Linked DNA regions of Homo sapiens: regions 1 and 2 are each linked to region 3. The links come from fine-mapping of genetic effects on gene expression. A gene starts in region 3. Each other region holds a variant in brackets. All regions are shown on one strand. Distances are from middle to middle.

What was found. PIP is the estimated chance that this variant, and not a neighbour inherited with it, causes the effect.
Region 1: its variant is the best candidate, but not a certain one, in a credible set for the expression of PDE4D-AS1 in whole blood (INTERVAL, PIP 0.50).
Region 2: its variant is the best candidate, but not a certain one, in a credible set for the expression of PDE4D-AS1 in whole blood (INTERVAL, PIP 0.76).

The regions. Positions count from the first base shown.
Region 1 is chr5:58,996,082-59,001,081 of GRCh38, reverse strand. The region is part of intron 6 of PDE4D (phosphodiesterase 4D); the gene reads left to right. Among named protein-coding and RNA genes, the nearest start is that of PDE4D-AS1, 41 kb to the left of the region's middle. The variant ATTGT/T (reference allele first, on the strand shown) is at 2,102.
Region 2 is chr5:58,938,733-58,950,316 of GRCh38, reverse strand. No RefSeq gene overlaps it. Among named protein-coding and RNA genes, the nearest start is that of PDE4D-AS1, 95 kb to the left of the region's middle. The variant C/T (reference allele first, on the strand shown) is at 5,351.
Region 3 is chr5:59,037,051-59,042,050 of GRCh38, reverse strand. It overlaps PDE4D-AS1 (PDE4D antisense RNA 1), which reads right to left and starts at 2,285. Exons shown (of 2, transcript NR_198970.1): 1 at 1,981-2,285. It overlaps PDE4D (phosphodiesterase 4D), which reads left to right. Exons shown (of 15, transcript NM_001104631.2): 6 at 3,080-3,192. RefSeq lists a silencer at 2,847-2,916.

The DNA.
Region 1 (5,000 bases), 41 kb after region 3:
AATGTCTGATTACTCTTGAGCTCAATTCTGGATTCCTAAGAGCCACTCATTCCTTTCTTAACTTTGTGTACAGTTATTAAAATGTTCTGTTCTGGCTGGGCACGTTGGCTCACACCTGTAATCCCAGCACTTTGGGAGGCTGAGGTGGGCAGATCCCCTGAGGTCAGGAGTTTGAGACCAGCCTGGCCAACATGGTGAAATCCCGTCTCTGCTAAAAATACAAAAATTAGCCAGGCGTGGTGGTGGGCGCCTGTAATCCCAGCTTCTCGGGAGGCTGAGGCAGGAGAATCGCTTGAACCCGGGAGGCAGAGGTGACAGTGAGCCAAGATCGCACTACTGCACTCTAGCCTGGGCGACAGCGAGACTCTGTCTCTAAATAAATAAATAAAATATTCTCTTCTGATCAAAATACAGATCCTGAGTTCTATATACAAAACACTGCATTCCTTATGCATACACAGTGCCCTAGCTTTCACATTTCCCTCCCCCCAGAATTGCAAGTGGTCCCACCCCTAGATTTTGAAGGTTTTAGAACTCTGTCATACATAACAATAGAAACAAAAGGAGCTGAGAGCAGCCATGGCACACAGGTGAGGGAATGTGTCATTGCCATCTGTGCCATCTGTGAATTCTGGACATTAGTCGTATTGTTTAATCCCTATGCTTTTATGTTGGATGAGGGGAGAACTACAGTCATTTCTACATCACCAGGGAGCCACTTGTTTTGGATTTGAGAGAGGGAAGCAATTAAAATGCTCGATTGCCATTTTTGGAGCAGTTTTTATTTGGAAGGAAGGGAAGCCAGAGGACATTAAAATTCATAGAAAATGCCCTCCAAAAGGATGGGCAATTCTTAAGAATGAACTACGAATTTTGAGGAGTTTTATGGTCATTATTCATCACTGCAAGAGGGAAGCCCCGTTCATCTTTTCTCAGGGTGGCCTCAGAGCTGCAGGGATACCATTATTCAATGGCGTTTGTCGGGTGAGGAGAAAGCCTCCCCAGAGGCTGGCCCTTGCCAACCAATCCCAAAGCAGCCTGCACCGAGGCCACACCCCCTCGCCTTATAGGCTAAGAGCTGGAATGCAATTGGTGCAGAGTTGGGGTTTTATGGGAGGGGCTTCTTGTCACTCTTCCCGGCTTCCCTGCAGTTCCTTATTTGGTAGCTTTTGACAGGACTAGCCTTTCTTGCAACTAAGCATCTTGACATACATTATTCATTAAGCCCTGGAGCTCGGGAGAGAAAGATGCAGACCCTTAGATCTTTAGATATTCCTTTATCACGTGGATTTTCTTTATTCAGAATAGTTGCTGAATTTTGTGCCATTCTGGAGTCTTACAAATGGCATGTATTCGATGGGAAGACGGCTGGATGGGATTTAATGCGAGGCTTTCTTATGTATACTTAATTACCAAAAATCTTTAAAAACTCATACTCTGCGTGGCTTGTGGAGGTTGTTAAAGTGTCGAGATTTTGAAGCTAAATACATTTTAGAGCTTACTATATATATACATATATATATATATACATATAATCAATCAAAAATGCCTGAAGCAAACTATTTACTGTCAGTGTCTTGGGGCTACATAAAGGTAAGACTTACTTAGCTTTTGAAAACTCCTTACTCTGATTACAAAATTATTTAGAAAGCTTAGACTCTACTGTAATTTGTTCAAACTATCAGTTATGTATTCTTTCCTTACACATGAACTAGGAAGAAATACGTGTTAATAGTGGTCAAGATAAGATTGTATAACTTTCATCAGTTGTAGTTTGAGTGTTAAAATAGCTTTTTTAGATACGCAGTAGTTCTTCTGTTTGTCATGTGGTATATGTTTGAATTGTGCTTGAAAAATATATGGTAATTAAATACATTCATTGCAAATAAATTATTGGGCCAAATTACTTATACTGATTTATGGATTCCAGTTAGTATGTTGCACATAAAGTTTATAAAATTAATTTGTGGCTGTTTCTAAAAATCTATACTACTTTAACCTGACGAGGAATACGTTTTTTTCACCTTTAGCTATAAAGCCCTAGGTGACATTAAAAATTGACATTACTTAACTATGTAAGTGATACTAAAGTGAAAACTTG[ATTGT/T]CTATTATACTTGCAAAACTGAACAAAGTTTTTATTACACTGTTTTGTGAATCTCAAGAAATGAATTAATAAACAATTCAATAAGATTGTGTCCATGCTTGGCAGGCTTTTTCCATGCCCTGTGGTAACATTAGCATTGTGATCCTGTCTCCACAATAGAAGGAGGTAGAAAAACCTTATTCAGTCCTAAATGAAACATCACTTCACAGATTTTTGGTATTTGAGCCACTCGCTTGAACCTGGGAGCCAATCACAACACATTTTAAAAGATTCATTTTCTGTTACTCTGAGGATTTTTCAGATTGGAGTGTTTGTCGTTTGCTTTGTTTCTTTCTTTTTGAAGGACAAGTTCCCCTTTGTTTTAGAGATTTACTTGAATTCTAAAAAAATTAGAAAACTTATTTCAGTCTTGGTTGTCCAAGTAGTCATGATTCCTTACCTCCCTTTAAATCTGTGGATGATTCAGATTTTTAAAAATGTTTTTAAAATATATAGACTTCCATTATTTGAATTTTGTTAGCCATTTCTTGGCTAAAAATCTTCAGAAATGCAGAAAAGTATAGAGAGTAAATATAAGAAGCCCTCATTATCCGCCAGAATTCAGCTCCTAGCTTTTAGCCAGCTCACAACTGATGTTATTTTTGAAGGGCTTCACATTTGTACTGTGATTATGAACCATTTGTACTATGATTATGAACAATATTGCCAAGAATCTACATATAGAATTTTAGTACGTTTCTTTTTGAGGAAAATTTTTCCTGGACAGCTTTATGTTTAATACTGTACCTTTAAAAACATGTAAAAATAGCAAATATAGATATATTTGGTCTTATGCATTTTGAAGGTTTTATTTTTATACCATCAATGGAGTATTTGTTTAAATAACTTTGAATACTGATATCTACCAAACTTGTAATGCATCACAGTGCAGCATATTCAAATGATTTTTAGCAGAATATTGTCAGGAAAAAATAAGAAAATTTTCTTACTATTGGACCCATACCACCTCCTTAAATATATATTGGGAGGATATATAATATACCCAGTAGCACACTGGCGTGATGTAGAAGTAAAGGAGATTACATTTAAGGACATTTTGTTTTATTATTTTAGTTTGCTTCCTGAACAATCTTAAATGCCTAATGTAAATTGAAGAATTGCAGTTCTGAAAAGCAAAATACAGTATTGAGATTCAACTGCATTTTTACTTTCCTTTATGCCTTAACTGCTGTACACAGACATTCTGATGTATAATGAGAACAAAGGATTCAAAAGCATTCACTTAGAAATCCTCCCGTTTTTTTAGTTGCAACCCTAAATCTGTGTATTGTTTTCAGACTACTTAGGCCAAAAACAATTAGAAATTCATCAATGGAAAATATTTAGAGGTCACTTAAAAAAATAAACTAAATGCTTAAATGGTTCTGCATTTTACAATCGGTTCGTTTCAAACAGCAGTTTAATGTTTTGTCCCTTCTAAATATATTAATTGAGAAATATGATGGGATTTCCCAGAAGAATACATTGTATTAGCTTTAAATCAGTCCTTCCCCCTTTGGTAATTTTATGTAGTTATCTTAGTAAATATTATATAATTATTTTTAGATGAGAGAAGTATCACATTTTTAAATGTTTGTTGAATGATCTAGTGCATTTTTTTAGTACATCTAGCTATGCACTCCAAAACCAATTTGTGAGATCAACTACCAGTTGAGAAAGCACTTATGGTAATTTTTGTGGTTATTCATTTAGCTTTGCTGGACTGAAACTTTTATATGGATAGCAAAAAAGGAAAACAATGTTAATTCCTTTTAGAAAATACCCTTGTGTTATAACTTAATGTACGCTTCAGAATTATCTTTAGGAAATTCCTTAGACCGTCTTCCTAGAGTAGAGAAGTAATTGCTTCAAATATTGTCTTTTATAATTATGTTAAAATGAAATGTTGACTTCCTTGGAGTCCCTTATAAGCCTTGGTAGGGAGGTGGGCATGTGATGGAGGATTTCTCCAATCCATGTTTTTGTGTTTTAAACAAAGGCTGGAAAGTACTCTGGGAATAATGTATATGACCAGAAAGATGAACATGCAGGATGTCACTTATCTAGTCTGTACAATATTTAGATTCCTTTCACTGGCTTTTTTCTTCAGTTATCTGTACTAACTGGCTATTTTGGTGAATTGTTTAAGCAAACTGCCAGGAAAATTATACTTCGTTCTTTATATTCTTTTAGAAAAATCCAATAATATATGTAGCATATCTGCAGGTAGCATCCACATGTTCTCTTTGGGCAACATAATCCTTATACTAGTTTGTGTACAAGTTAGAAGATAAACCTGTGATAACTGGGTCTCTATCTATCTTTATCAATCACTCCCAGAAGGCTTCCCTTGTTTTGCTTTATTGAGAGAAGTGCAAGGAGGGCAGCAGTTCCTGTATAGACTGCTGAGATTCTAGCAATGGTGAAAGCTTTGCCTCATCTCCTATCTTTTATGAAAAAAAAGACTTTGTCATGACCAGGTAGTTCTTAATAGCAACTTTTAGCTCATAACATGAACAATTTTAGGTCAAAGAGATATTTCATTGAATGTGTGTTTAAAATGTTTAGCAGACTCTTTTCTTTGGAATATGCTTTGCCTAATGAGTATATTTTTCCAAGTGTGAATTTATCTGTAAAGCAAATTTTTTTTAATTATTATACTTTAAGTTCTGGTATACATGTGCAGAACGTGCAGGTTTGTTACATAGGTATATACATGCCATGGTCGTTTGCTGCACCCATCAACCTGTCATCTACATTAGGTATTTTGCCTAATGCTGTCCTTCCCCTCCCTACCCGCTCATAGGCCCTGGTGTGTGATGTTCCCCTCCCTGTGTCCATGTGTTCTCATTGTTC
Region 2 (11,584 bases), 95 kb after region 3:
AGCTACACCCTAGCCATGTTGCTGGGGTTGCTTTCATTGGCAGAAGCCTTAGGAGGGCCACTGGGAGCACACACTTTGGCCCCAGGTGGTAGTTGCTGGTGGGGTAGCCTGTTCTCAGGGTGCTTCTAAATGTACGGTACCCTGCTGATGGGGATGGTGGGTAGCTTCCAGTGGCCCCCACATTGGATATGGAGGCAGCAGCCAGCAGCAGCAGGGTCTGCGTTAGGGGGAGGTCAATGGGGCTCAAGGAATCTGGAGTTGCAAGGTCTGTGGGGTCCCAGGGTAGGATGCAGTCTGCTGGGCTTTCAAAATGGTACCTTGCTGGAGTGCCTTAAGAGTGGGGTAAGAGGGAGGGTGGGTGGGGTGACCCAGTGTGAGCTCCCCATATGAAGCAATGCCATCATGGGGTCTCCAGCCAGTGCCCTATGTCCTAGCAATTCATTCTTTGCGCTCCTGGCATTCTCAAATGTTTTGTAGATGCCTTCTTGTAGCAGCCAGTCTCGTCCCTTTTCTTGAAGTCAATGAGCATCAAATGTGTTCAGGATTCATGAAATAATTCTGACAATAATTAGTATTTTTTATAGGAATTGGAACATGGTTTATTGCAGTATACCGCAGTGTTTGTCAGCTCTAGAACTTACGAAGAAGAGGAAGAGGAGAACAAGTTTGACTCCTGTGAACGTTTTTCCTTTTTTCTCAGGGCTTGTGTGGGTCAAAGGACTCTCCAGTGGCTAGGATTGCAGGAGTCCATGGTAGGAAGGTGGGCCACTGGGGGCTACTCACCTACTCTTTCCTCACATTAGGGAGCCCCTCCAGACTCCCTGCTAATCCCAGCTGAGCAGGCTACTTCACTTTCCTCTTGTTTTTCATGCTAGGTGTCACTTCCGTGTTGAATTCCAGCCTTCTCTCTTAGGTGATCTATTTTTATTTTACAAGTTAGAAATATAAGTGCAGAGAAGTTAAAACAGCAAATCTGTGGCTTCCAAGAGTGGCAAAGCAGTTTCTAGCCTATGTTGGCTGAGTTTTGACCAAGCCTCTGATATGCATACACATATATACATGTTCATGTACGTGTACTTAAAACATTTTTATTCCCATGTTTAAGGCTAGTTGAATAGGGGTGAACACAGAAAATCCTAGCAATTCATTCTTTGCACTCCTGGCATTCTCAAATGTTTTGTAGATGCCTTCTTGTAGCAGCCAGTCTCGTCCCTTTTCTTGAAGTCAATGAGCATCAAATGTGTTCAGGATTCATGAAATAATTCTGACAATAATTAGTATTTTTTATAGGAATTGGAACATGGTTTATTGCAGTATACCCCAGTGTTTGTCAGCTCTAGAACTTACGAAGAAGAGGAAGAGGAGAACAAGTTTGACTCCTGTGAACATTTTCCTTTTTTCTATAATTTACGCATATGCTAACAAGCAGCTAGTTTCAAAACACAAACTTACCTTGACAGGAACTAGGTCTCACTGTTGAGAATGTAGTCTCCTCTCTCCCCACATAGCCCTAGGGTTATTCAGGATGAAGGAGAAGAAAAAACATACCCAAGAGCATTTTATAATTCCATCCTTCCTTCTTGTTATGCTAAGGTTACTAGTACCATGACCTATGTGAACTCGTTTTCTTGAATAAGAAGAATAAAAGCGTTCCGTCCATCAAGGAAGACCTCAAGAGAAATTCCAGGTTCAGGTCTCATGGTACAAGAGCCAAGTGTTTCTTCCTGAATCATTCCCAGGCCTGCTTTTGATCTGAGCAGTGGCTTTCAAAAAATATGCTGATGAGATTGCTCTCTCACTTAAGAACTTAAGAAAGAGTTGAAGTTCTTCAATGTATATCCCCAGCCTGAAACTTGTCTTGAGGAAGATTTGTAGTAGTAATGAAGGGTGACAGTAACCTAAGGGTGAAGAATGTAGAGAGATTTTTCCCAAGAGCAATCCAAGATACTGCTTGAAACATCCGGGGTCCACTGACATGCCCCTTGGACTCCAGGAGAAATCTGGAAATGTCTGGACCTGCAATGAGACACACCCAGCTTCAAATGTGTCACTCTGGGCATATTCTTTAATCTGAGCTCCAATTTTCTTTCTTGTAAGAGTCATTACACATGGCTGTTTTATTTACTAATTCGTTTTTTAAATTAAAGAAATAAATTTGTAGGAGTAATATAGTTACATTGTTTACAAGTCAAATTCTTACATGGCTCATTTCCATCCATTTCATGGATGTGTTACCTTCTGGTATTTATTAGAATTTGCTTTAGACTTTCTGTTGCTCACCTCACAGTTCTTGTGTCATCTTAGTTTCTTTTCTGTTTTTTGGTCTTTTATGCGAGAGGTTTTCCTCACATTGTCTGATAATCCTTGGCAGTCAGTTCGTATTGAAGAGTTAGACATTAGAAAGCCAAGTGAAAATCCTGTGTGTGTACAAGGTTTGTTGACTGGAAAGCTTCATGGGGATATTCTTGCTTGGACATTTCACTGAAGGACATCCAAAAACCTGTTGCCGTTTTTAGATTTTTTTTCTTGGATTGTTGGTTTTCCTGGTGATCTTACTCCAATCTCTTTGGTGCCATAATTCTACCAGCTGAGTATGAGAAGGAGCTGGGGTTTCTCAATGCAGAATATGTACTTGGTTCTAATATGGTAGTCTGGTTCTAATATTGTAGCCTTTTTCTCAGCAATGGTTGCCACATCTGAGTCCTGAATCCCTTTGGAATCAGCCTCTCCAGAGGGTGTATGTTTAGAACCGGCGTGAGTGAAAGGTAGTCATCCAATGACATGAGGTGGGTGAAAATATTTTAACTGCTTTATTTATAAATTTTCAACTGACCCTCCTGTTTTTGAAACCCACCAGTGTCCCCACTTCCATAAGTCCCTGGATCCTCAATTTTCCAAGTCTTCCTGGAATTCTATGGAGTAAATTAGCTTACTGATGCATTTCCCTTACTTGCCTTAGGTTTCTGCTCACTCTGTTCCCAAGTCAATTATGACCTACCTGGCTGCTTCCAGTTTCTGAAATGTTGTGTGTCAGCTTCTTTTCCATTGCCTTTGTCCTTGCAAGCTTATGCCATTTTAAAAAATTCTTTTGCTGTCGTTTTTGTGGAGAAATAGAAAAATATGTACATTCAATCCCCATGTTTAAGTGGAAGTCCCTCATAAAATTATATTAGAAATTTATTAGAAATATATACACACATATGAATATAGATAGATATACACTCTCTTTTTTAGCATACATAGTGCCTGTTATTTAGCAGGTACTAAAAAATAATATGTATATGTATATACATGTAGCAGAAGGCTAACAGGAACTTAGATACACTCAGGAATATATGATAGCATGGAAGGTTGGAACGGTGGGCCTGTGCACAATCAAGTCATGAGGACTTAGAAAAAGACGGAACCATGGCTGGGTGCGGAGGCTCATACCTGTAATCCCAGCACTTTGGGAGGCCGAGGCCAGTGGATTACCTGAGGTCAGGAGTTCAGGACCAGCTTGGCCAACATGGTAAAACTCTGTCTCTTAAAAAAAAAAAAAAAAAAAAAAAAAAAATACAAAAATTAGCCAGGCATAGTGGCAGGCGCCTGTAATCCCATCTACTCGGGAGGCTGAGGCGGAGGTTGCTGTGAGCCAAGATCGCGCCATTGCAGTCCAGCCTGGGCAACAAGAGCAAAACTCAGTCTAAAAAAAAAAAAAAAAAAAAAGAAAGAAAGAAAAGAGAAAAAGAAAAAGAGAACCTGGCAGGATTCAGTAATTAAGCCAGAGTCAGAAGGAGAAGTACTTCTCAATACAGCATGGTATCTTCTGTTTTTTAGACACGGCTCTACCCAGCTCAATTGATTCATGACTGTGTGGGTGTATTTTGTTTTGTTTTTTCTTTTTCAGACTTTGTCAACAGGAAGTAGGTGCCCATGTTGTTGATAGAAAAGCTTGTAAGTAGGACTGCACAGACTTGGTTTTGGTTCAGCATTTGGCAATAATCAGTCTTTCTGCTTCAGCCTTCAGAGAGCCCACTTCATCATTCTTTCTGGCATCCCTGTGATCATATGATTACATATCTAATCAGTGTAACAACAACAGCTACTTAAAGAAGGCATGCCATTAAAGATATTGTTAATATCTCTACATTGCCTTTCAAACATATGTAAGCATTCTAACTTGGAGTGAAATCTTCTTAGGTGCTTTATATGTTGAAATTCTACCAGTCAGCTGAGGAAGAAATGTATACGGCTTATCCCCAAAATAAGATATTCCAACAAATAATGTTTATGAGAGCTGTTAATTTATGTTAAAAAAAAAAGCTATTAATAAAATGTTTAAGTAATTAAATTTGGGAGCTTGATTGGCAGTAGGAATATTAAGAGGATTAGCTAGATAACTAATGTAGAAAATAATATAATTGTATTGAGTCAACAAAAGCTTATATAGATTTAATTACTATGATGATATTAGATTACTTCATAATTAGAATCTTTGTAGAATTGTTTTGGTATAATTGCATTCACAATACTCAAAAAGTAAGCTTAAAGAATGATATTTTTAATTATTTAATTCCAGTAAGTCATAAGTCTTATTTTTTGCATTATATGAGGCTGAATTAAAAGCAGAATGCCATCTGACATTTCAAAATTTCATGGAGAGAAATGTATCTGAAATCATATACACCAAAAAGATAAGTAAAATTTGATAGAAAAAAATGAATGTATTTTAGCTGAGTTCTGACATGCATTTTATTCACAAATCAAACTTCAGAACACAGAAGACAATTTCTTATTTTGAATTTATAGAGACTATTCTAATATTAAATTGATTTTTACAAGCTAGCAAATATTTTCAATAGTTGAAGCTTCGGAGTTTCTCATTTATCTAAGCTATGTAAATGCATGCAAAGTTTCTTCTAGAAAACAAATTACTGAAAGACATTTTCCTGATTTGTATTTGGCTGTGTTATTCCCCAGAAGGTGAAATTATTAAACATGCCATTCGAAAGCCAGTAACTCCTTAGTACAGGTTGAACATCCCTAATCTGAAAATCTGAAATCTGAAATGCTCCAAAATCTGAAACTTTTTCAATGCCAACATGATGCCACAAGTAGAAAATTTTACACCTGATCTCATGTGATGGGTACCAATCAAAACTTTGCTTCATGAACAAAACTATTTTAAAATATGTATAAAATTATCTTCAGGCTATTTGTTAGGAAATAAAAATAAAACTCTAAGTCCCTCCGACTGACCCAGCGGATTCTCTCTTGGCCAAGGGAACCCCAGCAAAACCTTGGAAGCTGAATTCATGGCTATGATGGGATGGGAGATTTGGCATATGCCTCATTATATCCCCACCCT[C/T]GCTAACAGTCGTTAGGTTTTCTTCCTTAACAGCTAAACAGAAACCAGCCTTTCCAAAAGACTACTAGCTTATCTTCCCAGATACGTAACAGTCCAGATGAGATTCATTATGTTCACCTTATTTTATGTAAGATGTAGATTTACCAGGCACTAACTAAAGTTTTACAAGTATGTAATCATTTGTCTCACTGCTGCCCCACCACCTCCCCTGCCTTTTAAGGAAAATATATAAATACTAAACCTCCTAAGAACCTCTTTGGAAAAAACAGTCACACATGCTTCTGTGACTCTCTATTTTCCCAGGTATGCCTTCAAGCTGGCTCAACAAAGCTTGATGCTTTGAAACTTATGCTTCAATTACTCATTTCAGTTGTCAGTGTAAAAGGTGTATATGAAATAGAAAAGAATTCTGTGTTTAGACAGTTCTCATCAGTGAGATATCTCATTGTGTATATCCCAAAATATTTCAAAAAAATGAAATCCAAAACACTTCCAGTTCCAAGCATTTAGGACAAGGGATATTCAATCTGTATCAGAAACATGCGATGGTGACCACAAAAGGAATCTGGCAGCTGAAAATTCTGAGTCACTATCATGTCAAACTATAAAAATTTTATACAACTTAAAAAAAAAACCTGCACTAATCATTAATTTATATTATTGTTAAAATTATCATACAGTAAAATTGATTTTTTTTCCTTTTGATGTACAGTTCTGAAACCACCTTTGCAAAAATTGCAACACTGAGAAAACTTTGACAGTGAAAGAAATTTGACCTAACCAACTCCACATTGCCTTTAACCTCCAAACTGCCCTTCATTCCTGGGCATGGCCTAAGCTAACTTTGGGAGAAATTTAGGTTATAGTTTAAATGATAATAGCTCTTTCCAAAACTAAACTGCCTTTGTAAAACTAATGAAAGGCCACCAGTTTACGAAGATAGGAGGGCCTGAATTCTGCTAAGATATAGGCATAGTTAAGTGATTACCAGCCATTATTCCAGAGGTCACAAGATTTTCAACTTCCTCAATTACTCCTGTAAATAACGTTACTATTGTAGAACCTAAAATTACTATTGTAGAACCTAAAGTTGACCTTTTGAGATGTCTTGTCAGGCTTTTGCATTTCTGATGACCCAGTGTCCTGAACCAGTGACTCCTCTGTGGACCCTTACTGGAAGCTGACTCAGGGCACACGAGGACCATTTTCCACACCCATATGATTGCATCCCCAACCAATCAGCAGCACCCATTCCTTTGCCCACCAAATTACTCTTGAAAAACTCTAGCCTCCAAATTTTCAGGGAGGCTGATTTGGGTAATAATAAAACTCTGGTCTCCTGTTTAGCTGGCTCTATTTGTATTAAACTCTTTCTCTACTGCAATTGCCCTATCTTGATAAATCAGCTTTATCTGAGCAGCAGGCAAGAAGAACCCATTAGACAGTTACAGTTCTGTAAATTTTAACACAAACATTGTTCATGTAACCACCAGTAGGATCACCATCTGGATCAGTTTCACCACCTAAAAAGCTTCCTCATAATACCCTACTCCATGACACTAGGAACAGCTACTAGTTCTCCATCCCAATTGTTTCATCTTTTGAGAAGTTTATATAAATGGAATTGTATAGTATAATCATCAATTTTAAAATAAAATTTCAGATGTATTCACATTCCATAAGTGTACTCTATGATGCTGATATTTATCTTTAGCCTCAGCTTATGCCAAACTACGCCTTTCCATATATGGCCAAAATGTGTATTCAATATACCTCTAACTGGGAGGATCAATTGAAAGTGTTGTTTTACTAAACTCTATAACACAAAGGAATTCAAGGATACCATAGGGATCATTCAACTGATTATAACACAAAATGGGGAGAGCCAATTTCCCTGTCCCCAGAGACCTCTGGGCAGCTCTAGCTCCCTGAGGGAGCCAGCACAACAGTGGTCCCTTTCTCAGGAGATACCTGGGACACCAGGCAGTTCCTCTTAGACCTTCTGGGAGAGGGGTTCCCAGCAGACGCTGGATAGGAGCAATAGCACTGAGAAGGGGTAGCAGAAGCAGCAGTGGCCTTGACTTGTGTATGTGCACATATGCAAGGAGCCCTTGCGAGACTCCCTTCTCCCCAGGTAGTAGGGTCTTGCTTGCCTTGCTAGTGGCAAGAACCACTAAAGTTTAGTTGTTACTGTTAACGTAACCCTATTTCTACTTACAATGTGGTGAGGCCTTGGAAAACCCAAGTTATATAAACATTTGTCTTAGTTCATTTAGGCTGCTTTAACAAAAATACCATAAACTGGGTGGTTTATAAACAACGAACATTTATTTCTCACAGTTCTGGAGGCTGAGAAGTCCGAGATCATGCTGCCAGCAGATTCACTGTCTGGTGTGGTCCCATCCCTACACAGTGAAAGCAGCAAGGTCACTTTCTGTGCCTGATTTATAAGGACACTAATCCCGATCATGAGGACTCAACCCTCATGACCTAATCACCTATCAAAAAGCCCCATCACCTTAGGGTTTAGGATTTCAAAATATGAATTTTGGGTAGACACAAACATTCAGACTGCAGCAACATTCAATAGAGGCAACTCACCTACCAGGAGGCAACTTTTCATTCTGATGCCCAGGTATGACAGACCTCAAATCTGTTACCGTCCCATGAACCAGGAATTATACAAAGGGTAGAGGGGCATAGCTCTGGGTGAAGAGCTGCACTCTGTTCACTCTGGGCTCTGTGTGGTGGTGTCCCAGGTAGTGTCAGTCCAGCTGTTAAGTCCAGTGAGGCTCAGAAAGGTGATGTCATTTGTTCAAATCTTCCAGCTAGTTTGTTGGTCAGATCATAACCAGACCCTATGAAGTCTAATCATACCCAGTTCTGTAGGCTTTCCTCTTCAATAGGTCCATTCTTATCTCTAACTGAGACCACCTGCATCCTCATAGCTTAACTATCAGTATGGAAAACAAACCATCTGTGTCACTATGACTTTACTATTTGTTCAAGAAAATTCTTGTCCAGGAAGATAAGACGGTGTACAATAAATAACATCAATGTTTACTTCAGAAAATTTCTGAAAACCAATTTATTCAGATGATAGATTGCTCATTTGAAAAAATAAACCCCTTTTCAGGACAACAGATTCCTCTCCAAGTCTAATAACTTGTTTATCAAAGATCTATTTTTCAGGACTTCAAGACCCTCTTATCACAATGTCCACCAATTCTAAACTATAATATCATGAACTTTGCCGAATTTCCACCAGATTTCTTCCTTGAAAGGCCTGACTTTAAACCACTTGAGCTCAGACCCTTAATGTTTATAAATATCTACCTGTGACCTCTCCCTTTTGAGAATTATAAGGACTTTTTCAAGGTGTTGCACTCTCTTACTGCAGGTTAATAAACTTAGCTTTGTTTGATCAATAGTTTATTCTGATGGTCTTCTTTGAAAGTCAGCAATCAACAGTTCTGGGGCCTCAGTAGGATTCACTCAATAATTTCTGCTCCTGCAGTTTAAGAACCTTAGCCCTAAACAGTGTGTTCTTCTGAAGTTTGCCATTTGGAAGCCTCCCCCACTGCAGTGTTAAGGTAAGTCTCTCATTGGATTTGAGTCCCGGTGTCCTTTCCATAAAGCTCTTAAATTGTTTATTTTTCTTCCTAGAAATAAGAAACTTTTAAGAAATTCCTGGATTATCTGATCAGATTTGAAAATGTTTATTCTTTGTGGAAATGTTTTATTACTAGTAACATTACTCTTTTTGTCTTTTATCCTATTTGTTGTGAGTCTATGAGAAGAAGCTCACAGGGAAGAAGACAGCCGTAGACCTGGCAATTTTGTCCTCAAACTGGCTCAAAGATACAATAATATCAGCGGGTCTCATCAAACTGGCATTCTTATAGAATAAACTTTGCTCTGGGTCACTTACTAATATCTTACAGAAAATTTATAGCAGCAGTTGTATATTGAGGGTGTGAATAAAAACCACCAGAGAAGCTTTTTGAAAAAATACTATGAATAGATTTCTGCTTCTGGCCAAAATGAAGAAACAGGGACCAGATTTACTCTCCAGTAAACCAGTGGAAAAAAAAACAGACACAATATTGAAAAATAAAAAGATTTTTCAAGACATCAGGCAATGAAGAATAGTGATCCAAGAGAAACAAGAAACAAGATGAATCTTATGTTCGCCACAGCTTACTGTCTGGAGTGAGTATCAAGACTGTGGTACAGAAAGGGAAAACCCAGATGGAACCCTGCCATCTCCCTAAGTGGAGTCTGGGGAGGGCAAAGTGAGTAGAGTTTGCAAGGAAAGATATGGGAAAGGAGACAGCTGTGCAGAGAGAACACTGGGGATCTGTACAGGGTCTTCAGCTGAGCATGAGTCAGCATATGCATGTGAGGAAACTACCCATGACTGGGGAAAGAATCAGCTGGAATGATTACGGGGTATAGAATCCAGGGCTCAGAATCATTCCTGTTTCTATAGGAAATGGGCATTGAGTAGCATACTTGGAAGAATTTTTGCTTCAGTCATGCAGTAACATAGAACTTAGACTAAATACTACTCTGATACCACATAATGAAACTCAAAATAAGACCCAAAAGAATCAAACTGTTTATAAGTAACTGAGTTTCAAAATAAAGTTCAAGAATATTTATAGAAATACCATCTAACAAAGCACAAAATTAAGATAAAGGGTCAAACTATTTGCAAGTAATTTTAAGTGTGTTCTAGAACAAAGTTCAAAAGTATTTATAGAAATACAAAAGGATCCAAAAACTGTCCACAAAAATATGACCCATAATGAAGAGAAAAATCAGTCATTTGAAACTAACCCAGAAATGACAAAGATGATAGAATCGGCAAAGACATTAGAAGAACTGTAATTGTACTTCGCATGTTCAAGAAGCCAGAGGAAAGACTGAACATGGTAAGCAGAAACATGGAAGATATAAAAAGACTAAAAATCAAACTTTAGAGATGAAAACATTATGTGAGATGAAAAACACACTGAGTAGAATTAAAGGCAAATTGGAAATTTCAGAAGACTAGTGACTTTAAGAATTGAGAGATAAAAAGTACACAAAATGAGAAACAGAAGTGTGTCAGTGAGTTATGGGACAACTTCAAACTAATGCGTAAATTGCAGTCCCTGAAGGAAATGAGGGATATGTTGGAAAAAAATATTTGAAAAAATAATGGCCAAAAATCTCCCAAAGTTTATGAAAACCACAGATTCAAGAAGGTCAACAAATTGCTTAAAAATAGAGAAAGTCTAATATTAGGATACAAGGTCTTGACCAGGTGTGGTGGTTCATGCCTGTAATCCCAGCACTTTGGAAGGCCGAGTGGGAGGTGAATCACTTGAGGTCAGGAGTTCAAGACCAGCCTGGCCAACATGGTGAAAGCCTGTCTCTACTAAAAACACAAAAATTAGCCCGGCGTGGTGGTGCACACCTATAATCCCAGCTACTCGGGAGGCTGAGACAGGAGAATCACTTGAACACAGGAGGTGCAGGTTGCAGTGAGCCGAGATTGTGCCATTGCACTCCAGCCTGGGTGACAAAGTGAGACTCCGTCTTAAAAAAGACAAAAACAAAAACAAAAACAAAAAAATGGAAATAAGGTCTCAAATTAATAACTTCAGCTTACACCTTAAAAAAAATTAGAAATATCATTAGGGTCAGCAGAGCATAGCCATATGTTCCAATAAAACTTTATTTACAAAACAGATGGTAAGAGAGCAGATTTGGCCTGCTGGCAATTGCTTGCTGACCCTGGCTTAATCTTGTAAGATTGTGCAGCAAACAAAGAGACCCTAAAATTAGGCAATTTGGATATTAATCCCCCTCCGCTGAGTATGGCTACTCTGGCTCTTCAAATTAGGGATGGGATCTGTTCTCTTGTTTTAATCTGGACACTCTTGGCTCCTGGCATAGAAGTCTCACCATGACTCCTCACTGTAGCATCACTCTGTGTTACAGCGCTCAAATGCATGAACTCAGTCTTAAAAATGCTGCTGCGCAGCCATAGCACTGTCAAATCATCCAACCAAATGTCTATCCGACAAAAAGCAGGAAAATTGCCTACCAGGAAACCTGATTCATGATCACACCACAAAGTACAGTGCAGATTCAGATGGATCAAGTCCCCACATGGTAATGGCTATCCTCCATCACAGCTGAAGAATGATCACACAGAGAACCGAGAAATGAGTCTCCCGCTTC
Region 3 (5,000 bases):
GTTAGAACTTAAAATATATGCTTACCCCATTTTATCATCATACTCAAATCCTGTCTGTCAAAAGTGGCTGGTGCATGGCTTGGACATAAAATGGATATTCTGAAGTAAATTGTTCCTCCTGTCACTATACTACCTTCTTAAGAACAAATCCTGTGTATAAAGTGCATGATGTCTTGAAGCATTAGCCAAAACTTTCCTGAATTATTTTCCACATTAAAAAATAACAACTGAAATATAATGTGTGGAGCCACATCCTGTTAGATTTGAAGCCTGAGTCTGAACAGCTTTGGGAACTTGGTGAAGATGGAGGAAGGGGGCAGTTTACTTAGCTACTGGGAAATCACTTGAGGCTCAGGCTTTGAGAAAGTTGGAGTGCAGGGGAGAGGAGCCACAGAAAGCCGAACCTCAGAGGGGACTCCCAGCTTCATTGTAACCAATGATTGAAAAGATGGCACTGAACAAATCCCAGACACAATGGTTATGCATCTTTAATCCACTGGATAGGCTAACTATGGACAGCTCAAATGATCATAAAACAAGTCAATGTCCTCTTAAAATTTCCTACATTCCTATATTATGGGAATGAGAGAGAGAGGAAAATATCAAAACCAAACCATATAGTAGATGCACTACCATGGCAACTAGGTGATGCTATACTTGCATATGGAAGTTATTCAGTAAAATGAAAATGATTGTGTTAGAGCCATAGGCGAAAGTATTGTTTGTGATCTTTAGGGTGTGGGGTTACAATGGACTTCCTATATTTGTGTGTAATGCTTCAATTTTTATAACAAGCATGTAATATTTTTTACATTCTTAGAATTGGGGAAGCTATACAGAGCAGGTATTTTATATTTACCATTTAAAATTATTAATATCTTTAAGCTTGTTAAGGGGGAAAAAAAAGCTTCAATCTGAAACTTTAATTCACCTGGCAAGGTTTAGGCAGTTGTTTGTCCATCTAAAGTATATATTTACATAGACTGCGGGGTGGAGGAAGTAGAACAAAAAAGAGGCAAATTTTAACCTAGAGTACTCAAAGTGAACAGTAAATAGTTCAAGTATTCTTGATAACAATAAGCCACGTGGCACATGTAACAACTACTTTAAAAGTTACTCTAACTTTTACAAAGTTCACATAAAAAGCTATCTCAAAAATCCCAGGAGCCTAAATTCAGTCCATGAACTTTATTTGTTGTGCCATGTTAATTTATGGAGTCTAAATTTCAAGGGCAGAATTTCTTCTCCAATACCTGTAGATTCAAAGACAAAGACAAGGGATCCCACCACTTAGTGTAAGTTTCTCAGTATCTTCTTTCCACTCGACAATGACAAAGTTTTATCAAATGGACCCTTGGGAGTTTGACTTCTCCTCACTATGAATGGTTTGCTTATTGCATGCTAATGTAGAAAAGTTCTCCCACAACTGATCTGCTTAGGGACAGTGTCCCTGGTGCCCTGGGTCAGCCTTTGTAAACAGAACAGGCTTTTCTGTATGCCTTTGAATATGGTCTTTCCGTTTTCTCAAAATTGTAGTGTACTCTGCACATGGTGGGTAGAAACACCCTTCCAGATTTTCTTCCTTGGCCCAAGATCATCTAGGTCTTATGCAATTCACAGGGGAAAGGAGTAGTATGCAGGACATGCGTAAATTCTCCTTACCATGTGGTTCTTTCACATTGCTGTTCCTTTAAGAGAACTCTTAGGCAATTCGGCATATGAAAATGCAGCCTATTGTCAAATTTGTGAATTATAAAGCGTTCCGACCCCACAACATTGTATATTTTGTTTGCTTGTTTCTGTCCGCCCCAACATTTAGAAGTCTGGTACTTAGTAGGGACTGGGCTGGGTAGAAAAAGAATGCGGTCTTAATTCCCACAACCCTGCCTCCTTGAAGTAGGTGAATCCTAAGCCTTTAGAAACGAACCCCCAGAAACCCTAAAACTTAAACCCTCAGAAACCTTGAGGGTCCTAAATAACCTTGTTTGTGAAACTTCGCAGGAAGCAGCCGGTCGTGGAGTCGCAGAGGCTCCAGCGGTCTGGGCAACCTGGAGGGCAGTGGCTCGGCGGGGCGCGCGGGGTTCTAGCGAGACAGGTGCGCGGCCGTGCGCGCCTGCGTGCCGGTCCCTCCTGAGCCCCGCGGCGGGCGCGACCCCGGACGGCGGACTGCAGGCGCTCCACGCCGGGTTTTCCGCCGCTCTCCTAGCACAGACAGTCCCACAGCAGCCCCACAGACACACACGCTCGCGCCCGCGCCTCCTCGTCTGCACTTCAAAGCGAGTGGCGCCCGGCTGCGCCGGGGGGATGGCACTGCGAGGTGGCGGGGCCCCCGGGGCAGAGCTCGAGGGGAAGGACGCGGCGGGTGGCACGGACAGGGACAGGCTTTTGCAATTCGGAATCTTTTCGTAAGGGGGTTGAGGAGGAGCCAGGCAGCGCCGAGGGCCGAGAGGGGCGTGAGGGGGAGTGTTCCCGGAAAGCTGCGGCGTTGGAGCCGCGCTGCGCCTGCCGCCCGAGGAGTTGAGAAAGAAAACAGGAAACGTGGTGGCCGCGCACCCGGCCGCGGCTGATTCATTCACTTCAAGTGCCGTGCAGAAGGCTCGGCAGGCGGGGCGGGCGTGGGGCCGCGGCTCCGGGTTGGGGACCGAGGAGATCCGGCTGTGGACCAGACGCTCCTCTGCGGGGCGGGCACCCAAGCGCGCTCGCCACCCCCTCGCCATCCGCTAGAGCCGGGCTCCTGGACTGGGACTCGGGCCCGCCGCACAGTTGAAAAGTCGCATAGTGGTTTTTCCGCTCGCGTCGCTGTGTGAAAGTTGGCTCGCCGCTCTTTGCACGCCCTCCCTGGAGGCCGACCCGAGACGCCAAGCTGGAGAGACCGTGCCTCCCCGAGGCCGGCCGCCCCGCGAGCACAGCCTCCGCCCCCGTTGCACTGCCGGGCTGGGCAATATGAAGGAGCAGCCCTCATGTGCCGGCACCGGGCATCCGAGCATGGCGGGGTATGGCAGGATGGCCCCCTTTGAACTCGCTAGCGGACCCGTGAAGCGCTTGAGAACTGAGTCCCCCTTTCCCTGTCTCTTCGCAGAGGAGGCCTACCAGAAACTGGCCAGCGAGACCCTGGAGGAGCTGGACTGGTGTCTGGACCAGCTAGAGACCCTACAGACCAGGCACTCCGTCAGTGAGATGGCCTCCAACAAGGTAAGCCCCGGTTCTGCTGTCACTGGTGCCCCCAGGCTGCTGATTCCCATGCCGGCGAGCCACTGGTACCCATAGCCCCGGGAAATAAATTGAGAGGTTTTTTAGGCTTACTGCATGTTGGCTATTCTGCTCCTTAGAGGGAGGTTCCTGTTTCCTTGCTTTGCCTCCCCTAGTCACGCCAGATAAACATTTTCCAAAAGCAATTTGACGTGCTAAATTTAAGTATCTCCCAAGACACAGGGTTCCTAAGTAACACTGAGCCCTTGCAGCAGAAACCCAGTAGGGTCCATGGGCATTGCATGTTTAAAGGTGTTCTTGGGATTCCCGGTTGAAAATAAGAATTGGTGGATGTCTGTGAAATCACTTGAATGTCACCACCTAGGGCACTCAAACTCAGAAGAGTTCATCGAACTTGGAACCTTCACCCTAATTCATCTAGTTGTCAGGGTACCCCGCAAGAACTGAGCCTTTATATATTCAGTTGGCCATACATATCCGCAGGAAACATTAACAGAGTTAGAAGGTTCCTTATGATCATTACTTTTGTTTCCATTAATCTTGGAAAGAAAGCCCAGTTTTTTGAGGTCATTTAGTACAAGGAGGCTTCAACTAGGCATCTGTGCCATATGTGCTAAGGTGCTGGTCTTGGCAGTTAATGGAGTTTTGAGGGCTGAGAAGTAACCTTCAGCCTGGGACAGCCTTAAAATAGCACGGAAGGCAAGGTATAGTGTTTTCAGTTTTGCTGTATTTTTTGGATTTCCTGTTCTTTTTGTCTTTAGTTATGCAAGGAGATAATTGGAATTGTGTATGTTTTTAGTGGCTATTTGCCTGTGCATGTCGTATGCAGATGGCTGAAGGATTCAGCCAGTAAGGACTGGTAATGTTGTGAGACAATTAGTAATAGTTGCCTCGTCAAGATATTTAAGTATTTTTGGCCACCTATTTACAAGGTCAAGAAGGTTATATTATCTTACAGTTCATCTATGTGCACATATCTTTAAATGAGTGATGCTTTTTTTTTTCTACCTTTCTATGGTTTTTATCCCACCTGTTCTCATGCAGTTTTTACAAAAAGGCCACGGCATAACAGCCACTTGATTGTCTTATCTATTAACAGTGCTTTTGTAGGTAGCATTGTCAAGTGAAAAGTTGGCTTCAAATAAATAAAAGGGGCTCTGTAGACACGGCCAGCAGATACTAACCTACCCATATGCACACTGACCTACCCATGTCCACACTGATGATCAATTTTTTTGTCATTTGTGCCTCATTTCTAAATTTGGCACAGCTCCTCATCAGAATGACCAATTATTGCTCTCTTACTGGGACTTTTACCCCCTGCTGTAGCATTAGGCACCTTTATTCTCATCTGAGTAACAAATTCTTAGTTTTATAAAATATAGTTTGTTTTCATAATTTGATTCTCAATAGCAGTAGACATATGCTGAATATGTCCAGTGTCCTAACTGCTAAATGGGAGCACTTTGCCATGGGCCTGAGTTCTTAATTCTATTGTGTGGTTGATTCTGTGTAAGAAAATGAAGAGCAGAATCAAAAGCCACTTAGCAATGTGCAAGCATTAGTGTATATTTTCAAGGTGATTCGACAGTAGTTTTTCAGCTAAATGAATTTGAGCAGCTAGTTACTTTCCCTAAAATCCATATTCTTAATGTTGAGATCTATGTTTGGATTTAAAACTGAATGTGAAATTTAATAATGTATTGTAAATGACTTCAGCTGTCAAGGAATTAATCTATACGTTAAGATTTAAAAATTTTTTAGGTCATAATAATTGCCTAAAATGATTC